Regions from separate parts of the Homo sapiens genome. Here region 1 is linked to region 2. The links come from fine-mapping of genetic effects on gene expression. A gene starts in region 2. The other region holds a variant in brackets. All regions are shown on one strand. Distances are between the middles of the regions.

Region 1 (5,382 bases), 30 kb before region 2:
AAAGTATTATCATTATCATTTTTTGAAAGGCATTATTGAAATATACTTGTTATGGAGAACGGTCTAAGCAAAAAATGATAAAAATAGTAAGAATTTAAAACTTAGAAGTATACAAAGAAATTTCATGCTCGGTGTTATAAATAGGCAAAAGGAGGAATTCACAAACTTTTGATATAAATGATTACTTTCATATCTAAACTAAATGTACATGATATGGAAAGATGACACTAATATATTGTTCAATTAAAAAAATAAGTTGCTTATATCCTACTGGTCACATAAAAAAACCTTTTTTTAAAAAGTTGCAGAGCTGTATGTATAATATGATCCTATTCATGTTGAAACAAAATAGCATATATTGATTTGAGGGTGTGTGTACATGTGTATGTGTGTGTGGGTGCATGTGTGTGTATGTTTTCAGGTAATTTTTGAAAGTCTACAAAGATATTCTCTAAATTATTAACACTGGTTACTCCAGGAAAATCAGACTACAAAAAATTAAAGCAACGTTCACTTTTTATTTCACATATTTCTGTATTAACTGCTTATGTACTACCTTTTGTAACTTTTTCATCACCAATTTTAAAAATTATTTAAATGTACCATCTTTTCTTGCATCAAATTCAAAATTTTAGTGTGTCAATTTGTAATGATCCAACCCAAGGGAAAAACCGAACATGGCCCCAAACACTAATAGGTGATATTTGACTTCCAAGCACCTCACAGGTTTTTTAAAGCATCTTTACTCAGAACATATCCCAGAGGAAATATCTAAGTGGTACCCTGAAAAGTCTGGGATAAGAGTTGGCTGTATAATATCTATACAGTAAAGATAATCATCACTTTTAATATTCACACATTACTCCACCACTTCCACACTTTAACAACCATTGCCCCAGCCTGGGCAACATGGCAAAGCCCCGTCTCTACAAAAAAATACAAAAGTGAGCCAGGTGTGGTGGTGTACGTCTGCAGTCCCAATAATGGGAATCTGAGGTAGGAGGGTCACCTGAGCCCGAGGAGGTCAGAGGCTACAGTGAGCTGAGATCGTGCCACTGAACTCCAGCCTGGGTGACAGGATGAGACCCCTCAAAAAAAACAACTATTGCCAGTATATATGAAACCAGATTTTTTTTTCTTCTAAAAACAAAAACAACAACAACAACAAAAAAAAACGGATACCTGTGCAGCACGTGCAGGTTTGTTACATAAGTGTACGTGTGCTGTGGTGGTTTGCTGCACCTATTGACCTATCCTCTAAGTTCCCTCCCCTCATCCCCCAACCCCCAACAGATCCTGGTGTCTGTTGTTCCCCCCTCTGTGTTCATGTGTTCTCATTGTTCAACTCCCACTTAGGAGTGAGAACACGTGGTGTCTGGTTTTCTGTTACTGTGTTAGTTTGCTGAGGATGATGGCTTCCAGCTTCATCCATGTCCCTGCAAAGGACATGATCTCACTCTTTTTTAGGGCAGCATAGTATTCCATGGCGTATATGTACCACATTTTCTTTATCCAGGCTATCATTGATGGGCATTTGGGTTGGTTCCATGTCTTTGCTATTGTAAATAGTGCTGCAATAAACATACGTGTGCACGTATTTTTTTTTTTTTCTGACACGGATTTTCGCTCTTGATGCCCAGGCTGGAATGCAATGGCGTGATCTCGACTCACTGCAAGCTCTACCTCCCGGGTTCAAGCAATTCTCCTGTCTCAGCCTCCTGAGTAGCTGGGATTACAGGAGCATGCCACCACACGTACTAAAAATAATTTTTGTATTTTTAATAGAGATGGGGTTTCATCATATTGGTCAGGTTGGTCTCAAACTCCTGACCTCAGGTGATCTGCCCGCCTCGGCCTCCCAAAGTGCTGGGATTACAGATGTGAGCCACCCTGCCTGGGCATGAATGTATCTTTATAGTAGAATGATTTCTATTCCTTTGGGTATATACCCAGTAATGCAATTGCTGGGTCAAATGGTATTTCTGGTTGTAGATCCTTGAGGAATCGCCACACTGCCTTCCACAATGGTTGAACTAATCTACATTTCCACCAACAGTGTAAAAGCGTTCCTGTTTCTCCACAGCCTCGCCAGCATCTATTGTTTCCTGGCTTTCTAATAATCACCATTCTGACTGGCGTGAGATGGTATCTCATTGTGGTTTTGATTTGTATTTCTCTGATGATCAGTGATGTTGAGCTTTTTCATGTTTGTTGGCCGTGTAAATGTCTTCTTTTGAGAAGTGTCTGTTCATATCCTTTGCCCACTTTTTGATGGGGTTTTTTCTTGTAAATTTGTTTAAGTTCCTTGTAAATTCTGGATATTAGACTTGATTTTTTTAAAGCACCCTGAGAGAGAATAGGTACAGATTAACACAAAACACAGTTCTTAATTTCAAAGAATGAACCAAGTTGGAAAAACATCAAACCAAGTTTAGAAGACAGTGGAGGAGAGGGAAGAATAGGAAGCACTGTCAGTCTCTCATTCTTTCTTCCTTTCTGGTTTATCTAGTGATTCTTTGTACCTCAACTCCTTAGTGAACTCACCAACAGGGGGCTTTTGGGCCCACTTGAAACATGCAAACCAAACAATGCTACACCCAAAAAAAGGTTAGAATCATACCTTTTCCAAAATGAACCTGTTTAAATAAGGCATGTAGCCCTGGTTGGACACTGGACCCTCATCATCATCCCTGAAGTGCTCTTCAAGGGCAACTGGGTCATGAGGAACCTTCAGCACCGTGCACAGGTTATGGGAAAGGACCTGCAAGGGAAAAGAAAATCGTTTAAAGACTCCCACTAACCAGCAC[A/G]TGACACCTTCACCATGAGTACAACATGCTGCTCCCTCTCCTGGGTAGAGAAAGATGGAAAATAAACTAGCAAAAACAGGGTGAGGACTGCTCAGCTGCAAGCCCCTACTTGTAACCTGTTATTCTTTCTCATTCCTTCCCAGGTTTGGTTCACTTAGAACTAGTCTCTATTACATGCCTACTATGAGCCAGGCTCCATGCAAGATCTGTGAATATAATACTCCTGTGGTCTTTTACTAATTTGTCCACATCAGAAAGAAAAGTGGGGTGGGGGGGGAAGTCTAAGAGAATGTGTTCAAAATTAAACTTTTCACCAAGTAGAGCAGAGTCAGCCAATTAGAGCTGTTCAGAGAAAGAACCTGGTATTATTGGGAGGCTGCAGCCAGGGGTTCTGGACAAGGAGGCTGACCTGGGCAAGTCACAACCTCTCCAGGCTTTAGTTTTCTCATTTATTCAATAGAAAGGGCCAAATTAATATACCAAATATTAATTAGGAATCTCTAAGTATCTAAACATTTCTAAAATTCTATGACTAGGCTAAATTTCAGCATGAGTATAAAAGAATATAAATATAAAAAGAGAAAGAAATCAAGGGCCTGGATTAGATTCAGGAAAAAATTAAATAGCAAAAATAGGAGTCGCCAACATGGTTAAAAATATTTTACAGAAAACCTGCATTCCATAGCATAAATACATATAAAGGGCTACTGGTCTTGCAATAACCTAAGTTCACACTTCAAAGTCCAGGTACAGTAGTTAAATGAGCAGTGTGGGCTACCTTAGTATTAATCTTGTTTTACATTAAATGAAAATTTCAAGATAGAACTTAAATCCCTTCCATTTCATTTGTGCTTTCTGAACAGGTCAAATTACATAGCTAAGGCTGTATTTTCTTCAACAGAGAATCTTCCTAGTTGAACCCCAGGTAAAAACGTTCCTTATTTTTCTCAGCCCTAAACATTTAACCTTAAGGAGCCACATTCATCTCAATAAATACTTTCATTTGCATTAAGCGAGTCCCTTTTTCTGCATACACATATTTCAGTTAGGAGTTTTTTTAAGATTAAACATTTTTAATCTATAAAATAATTTGCATATCTTCTTTCTAAATTTGTTTTGTTTCTCAAAGCTTCATTTATGTGGAGATCCTTTTCTACATGCTCTACTGGTTTTAAGGAAGTAAGTTAAGGAAGTAAATTCACAAATGGTTATAAATGCAGTAATGAAGACTACAAAGCAGGCTGTGTTTCTCAAGCAAACCCTGTGTTTGCCAGTAAAGCACATGAAAAGAGTACGGTGGAGCTTTTATTGGAGAATCCTGCACCACAATCAGCAAAATTTTAAAAAGATATTTAATTTATATTAGCCTAGTAAATCCTATATACTAAAGATCAATTTCAAGAATATAAAGAGCTTAATAACTGTAAAATGCTATGGAAATACAAGTATTAAAGAAATGCACACTTCTCAGATCAGGTTCAAATGTCATTCAAATTTTAAAATCATTTGGAACTTTACCCAAGTTAACAATTCCCAACTACTGGTTAAATTAAGGTATATCCATAAAACATAAAAACCATGAGAAAGCTTGCTATGTACGGATATGAAAAGATCTCCAACATAAATTAAGTGAAAAAAACAAGGTACCTAAGAATATGTATGCCATCTTTTGTATAAAAAAGAAAAGGGAGGAAGAAAAGAAATTCTGGAGGGATATATAAGAAACTAGTAACTGTGAAAGGAAGACAAGTTTGATGAGACCAAGGTTAGAAAAAGACTTCACTGTAGCTCTTCTTTGTATTAAGTTTTTTTAAAAAAAATTAACCTACTCAAAAATGTAGTACATATTTTTAAAATTAAATATATATATATATATATATATTTTAAGTGGCCAGCCTAAGATCACATAGATCAATCTATTTATCTTCATAGCCTATACTTTTTCTTCTACATTAACCTGCTGACTAGAAATGAGGTGTAAAAGGAAGACATATTCCACAGCAATGTACCATGACTAATGGATGAGTGAGCTGTAAGGGCAATAAATGAGTTCAGAAAAGGAGAAATAGTATGTGTTACAGTGACTTCACAGAGGAAGTAAAATGTAACTTATGGCTTACAGGATAGGTAAGGATAGCTTTAGGATAGGAATAGAGGCAAATACAAAAATTTCCAGATAGGGGAATAACATGATAAAAGTAGCTGATTAATCCAAAGCCTTCAGGAAACAAAAAACACCATCTCTCCCATACCCACCCTGTTCTCTACCTTAGGGTTTCACAGATCCTCTAACTAAAGCCCTGGCAGGGGCCTTGGATGTCATATTGTCATCCTCATCTTATAAATGGTGACTACAGACTCACAGATATTAAATTTGTTTTTCTTGACTAAAGTTACTGAGAAGAACTGAGACTAGAACTCGGGTTTTGTAATCTCTGGTCCAGCACTCTCCAGTAATAAGAAACATTATGTCTTCAGTTGTCTAAAGTCAACAATGCTCTTTGTACATATAGATGCTTAGTTTGATTAAGTGATCCCACTGCAGAAGATATAGATTTGAACTCAAGATTTCAGC
Region 2 (5,382 bases):
AACCTACATGAAGAAATATAGTAAAAAACTCTATTAAAATGAAATATTGGCCAGGCACAGTGGGTCACACTTGTAATCCTAGCACTTCATGAAACCAAGGAGGGCAGATCACCTGAGCTCAGGAGTTCAAGACCAGCCTGGCCAACATGGTGAAACCCCGTTTCTACTAAAAATACAAAAATTAGCTAGGTGTGGTGACGCACACCTGCAATCCCAGCTACTTGGGAGGCTGAGGCACGAGAATCTCTAGAACCTAGGAGACAGACGTTGCAGTGAGCCGAGATCACACCACCGCACTCCAGCCTGGGCAACAGGGCAAGACTGTGTCTCAGAAAAAAAAAAAACAAAAAACTAAAGCATATTCAAATAATCCCAAAGATGGAAGAAAAAGAGAGGAAAAAAAAAAAGCAGAAACCAAATTATAATAAAATGGTAGCCCTAAATCAAACCATATCAATAATTACATTAAATGTAAATGGCCTAAATATACCAATTAAAAGACAGAGATTGTCAGAATGAATAAAAAAAAAGACCCAGCTACATCTATTTATTAAAAACTTACTTTAAATAAAATGGCATAGGTAAGTTAAAAGTAAAAATAAAAGTAAAATGTAGACCTACTCATAACTCCCCCGAACTGGAAATAACACAAATTCTCACAGATGCATGGCTAAAAACTACCATACATCCATGCAATAGAATATTACTTAGCAATTTAAAAAATTATTGGTACACACAACAAAATGGATTAATCTCTAAGGCATTATGCTGGGTAAAAGAAATCAGTTTCAACAGTTACAAACTATATGACTCCATTTACATGGCACTTCGGAAAAGGTAAAACTATAGCAATTAGGAAAGATCAATGGTTGCCGACAGTTGGGGTGGAGGCAGGGCAACATCAGGGAGTTTTTTAGGATGATGGAACTGAGGAAGCCATGGTTGTGGTGATAGTTATATAAATCTATACATATGTTGAAATTTATAGAACTGTACACCAAAAGTCAATTTTACTGTATGTTAATATTTAAAAATGAAGTAAAATAAAAATTACGTGGATGATCTCCATGGACCCTTCCAGACTATGATTCTATCAGTGAGAAAAAGAAAGGAGAGGCAAAAGGAAGACAAGGAGAATGTTAAGTCCTACTGGCATAAAAGCCACTACTCAGAAGAACGGGATTACTGTACAAAAATATACAAAACAAACCCAATCTTCAGAATTTATTCCCAGAAGGGGCTAAGAAAACCGGACATTCGGATCTAAAATATGTATATTTTTAAATGCCTATGAATAGCTTTTCTTGTCTGTTTCTATATTTTTTTACTTTGAAGAAGCTGCCAATTTCTGCTGGCTTAATGCCAATTTCGCTGCTTGGGGTTACTCAATTTACAAGCATCCCTTTATTTATACCCTATACTCTAGGGTCTCCGGCAGTCACAATAACGACTCTGAAAAAGCAGTCGCTTTTGCAGGGTGCCAGAAAGATCAGCGCTCCTCACCCGGAACTAAGGTCCCTGTGGGACACAGTACACCCCGTCCACTAGTTCCAAACTTAAAAGACGCTGGGCGGAAGGTCTTCCCAAGTCAAAAAGCCTCCCAAAGGAGAAGGACCCTGGAGGCCGGGCTTCGGGGCATTTCTGCGTCTCCGGACTGCCCTGTCGCCTCCGGGGCAGCTAGCCGTTTTGAGGACTGTCCTGGTGTGGGGCTGTGGGCTGCAGAAGGTTCTGCCCAGCGACCTTGGGCAAGTCCCTTCCTCTCCTGGAGTAAGAGGAAAATTCTGGGAAGGCTGTGTAAGGGAGCTTCCCATTGCCGCCTCAGAATCCACTTTCTGCCCCCCGCTCTCCAACGCCAAGAAGGAATCACACTTGGCCCTCCAGACTTCACCCCAGCCTTATGCCCGCCACCCTTCCCAGTCCCTGGGAGACCCGCGGGAACTAACACATCCAACCGAGGGCATGGCCCGAAGGCAAGGGGGAGGCAGTAAACACCAAATCCCGGTCTCAGACCCACTCCGCCCCAAGCGGGCCTACCGGGCGCATTCCGACCCGCCCCGCCCTGCGGTCACGGCCCGCCAGGTCCCGCTTCCACCCAAGGGAAGTACAGAGCGCGCCGGGGAGGGTCGGGTGGGGGGCCGGGTCAGGAGGCGCCCACCTTGAGCTGGGACTTGGAGACCTTGCCGCTGTGGTCCTGGTCGAGTGCGGTGAAGGCGTGCCAGATGGCTTTGAGCAGCTCCTCCTTCAAGCTCCCCATGGCCGCGGCCCTGCTGCCCCGCCAACCCCTCCTGCCCAGCCAGCCCCTCCGCGCCTCGGACGCCCCTCAACCTCCGCAGCCACAGCCCGCCGCGCAGTCACCTGACCCGCCAGGCCCCGCCCCCGCCAGGCCCCGCCCTGCTGCCGGCGCCGGTCCAGTGCCGCGCCCACAGCCGCCAGAGTGTGGGTTCTGCGAGTCAAGCCACGCCTGGTGGCAAGAATGCTTGGCCTTCAGTGTCAGCCAGGACGGTAAACACATCTCCCTAATGTTTCCCAGACCAGTTCGGGCCATTTTGGGTGCTCGAGTACAACACCTCACACAAATGACCGCGTCTTGAGGAAAAACCCGAGAGATTAGGTGAGCAGCCTACCCGCCTCCTCCCAGCGCCCCGCAGTGAAAAAGGGATCCCTGGTCCTGTCCTGGGAACGGAGTCACTGTCTGAGAAGGCCAGAGAAGACCCCGAAAAGTCCCCAGACCAGGACTGAAATGATAGCGCAGTCCCAAGTCGGGGAGATGCAGGGCGGCGGGGAGGCAGGAAGGACCTCGAGGGAAGTTTGTTGGTTCATTTCGCAAAAGTTTATTCATGCATACTCTATCTTGGGTTCTAGGGACACAGCGACGACGTTTAAGGGGAGTTTAGAAGTCAGGGTCAGGCAGCATTTTCTTCCTAACGCCTAGCTGTTGTTCAATTCACATCTTAGGAGGGGTTTGACCTGGGTAATACCTCTCTGTAGTGTTTCTCTGCTTGCAGAATAGGAGATCTGGGCCAATTCCAAATCACTCCACCCATTTTACTAATCCAAAGAGATGGACCATTTAAAAGAACGTATTCGGCCAGGCGTGGTGGCTCACGCCTGTAATCCCAGCCCTTTGGGAGGCCAAGGCGGGCGGATCACCTGAGGTCGGGGGTTCGAGACCAGCCTGACCAACATGAAGAAACCCCGTCTCTACTAAAAATACAAAATTAGCCGGGCGTGGTGGCACATGCCTGTAATCTCAGCTACTCGGGAGGCTGAGGCAGGAGAATCGCTTGAACCCGGTAGGCGGAGGTTGCAGTGAACCAAGATCGCGCCATTGCACTCCAGCCTGGGCAACAAGAGTGAAACTCCGTCTCAAAAAAAAAAAAAAAAGTATTCGATTGCAGCTGTTGAATTAATATCTGTTCGCGGTGGTCACAATGGTCACTTGATCTCTTTGGGCTTCAAATTATCCCGTATAAAAAGAGCAGGGTTGCACCAGATGTTCTGGAAGGGTTCTTGCAGTACTAGCATCCTAGGATAATAACTATTGCCGGTTAACTAAGGTCTGATTAAATCGCCAGGCTCAGTACCTCTCCTCTCCAATCCTGGACTAATTGGAGAGAACAATAAACACCAAGAGTTTTTAAAATGAGGTGGTTCTCAGATGAAGTTTGGTTTTGTTTTGCTTTTTTAAGTTCCTTAATGCACATGTTTGCCTTATTAAGAAAGGAAAAGATCTTCATAAGAAAGGGATATTTGGAAAGAGAAGAACAAGAAGGAGCCTCTTCAGTGAGTTTGAGATCAAAAAGGAACTGGTGGGGAAGAGGAGAGGATGGCCCCACTGACGAAAGAAGGGGCAGGAGCAAAAGGGTGGCCAGCCCCTCACTGTGACTGTCCTGAAGGTTCTACCCCATTTCATCACCATTTGTCAGGACTTTTCTTGCCCTACCAGAATCCAATTTCTATCATTTATCTTCCCCATTTCCAGCCCAAGTCTGCCAGTCAGCAAAACCACATGGTTTAACCTCTGATTTATTCATGCGAAGTCAGCTTACCCTGAGTAGCAAAAAAAAAAAAAAAAGAAGAAGAAGAAAAAAGAAACGAAGAAAACCTCCTAATTCTCAAGGTTCAGTTTAACCACTATATGACCCTTCTTCTCTCTCAGTATCTGGAAGTACCAAACATATTTCAAAGCCTTTTTTTTATGACAAGACCAGGACATTGTGGACTTCCAAATTCCTACTTCTCCCATCATCCTCATTCATACAATCCAAACGCATTTTTTTTCTTTTTTTTTCTTTTCTTTTTTTTTTGAGACAGAGTCTCACTCTGTTGCCCAGGCTGGAGTGCAACGGTATGATCTCAGCTCACTGCAACCTCCGCCTCCCGGGTTCAAGCGATTCTCCTGCCTCAACCTCCCAAGTAGCTGGGATTACAGGCGCCAGCCACCACGCCCGGCTAATTTTTTTATTTTTAGTAGAGATGGGGTTTCGCCATGTTGGCCAGGTTGGTCTCAAACTCCCAGCCTCAAGTGAGCTGCCCTCCTTGGCCTCCCAAAGTGCTGGGATTACAGGCGTGAGCCACCATGCCCTTCCTATCCAAACAAATTTTAAAGTAGCATGATGTCATAGAAAGCGCTGTGCTTTTCCTGGGTGCAGTGGCTCCTGCCTGTAATCCCAACACTTTGAGAGACTGGGGTGGGAGGATTGCTTGAGGCCAGGAGTTCAAGACCAGCCTGGGCAATGTAGCAAAACCCCGTCTCCACAAAAAAATTGAAAATAAGAAAGAAAGAAAAGTAAAGAGTTGTGCTTCAGAATCTAACAGATTATATTAATCTAATGCTGTGTAACCAATTAACCCAAAATTTAGCAGCTTAAAACTATAGTAAACATTATTTCATATTTTCTGTAAGTCAGGAATTTAGAAGCCACTTAGCTCTATAGTTCTGGCTTGAAGTGTCTCAGGAGGTTGCAGTAAAATATAGGGCTGTAGTCATTTGAAGGCTAGGCTGATGCTGGAAAATCTATTTCCAAGGTGGTTCACTCACATGGATGGGTCGTTTACAGAAGGCCTCAGTTCCTCTGTATATGGGCCTGTCCTCAGGCTGCTTGAGTATCCTTACAACACGTCAGCTGGCTTTCAATTGATTCAAGAAAGAGAAAGATGGAAGTTGCAATGTCTCTTACGATCCACCATCAAAAGTCATTCACCATCATTTCTGCAATGCTCTACTGATTGCTCAGGTCAAATCTATTTGATTTGGGAGGGAAACTACAAAAGGATATGAGTACCAATGGGCAAGAATCATGGGGGTCATCTTGGAAGATGGCTACCACACAGATGTCGGGAAGAATCCGGGCTTCCCCATTGACTCATCTATGAGTAAAT

Evidence for each region. PIP is the estimated chance that this variant, and not a neighbour inherited with it, causes the effect. A credible set is the group of variants that fine-mapping cannot tell apart.
Region 1: its variant is the best candidate, but not a certain one, in a credible set for the expression of SWAP70 in whole blood (TOPMed, PIP 0.73).

Annotation. Positions count from the first base shown.
Region 1 is chr11:9,691,525-9,696,906 of GRCh38, reverse strand. SWAP70 (switching B cell complex subunit SWAP70) reads right to left here. Exons shown (of 12, transcript NM_015055.4): 2 at 2,621-2,761. Among named protein-coding and RNA genes, the nearest start is that of SWAP70, 30 kb to the right of the region's middle. The variant A/G (reference allele first, on the strand shown) is at 2,808.
Region 2 is chr11:9,661,052-9,666,433 of GRCh38, reverse strand. It overlaps SWAP70 (switching B cell complex subunit SWAP70), which reads right to left and starts at 2,357. Exons shown (of 12, transcript NM_015055.4): 1 at 2,156-2,357. The coding sequence starts at 2,254. RefSeq lists enhancers at 1,750-1,869, 2,980-3,179 and a silencer at 2,010-2,509.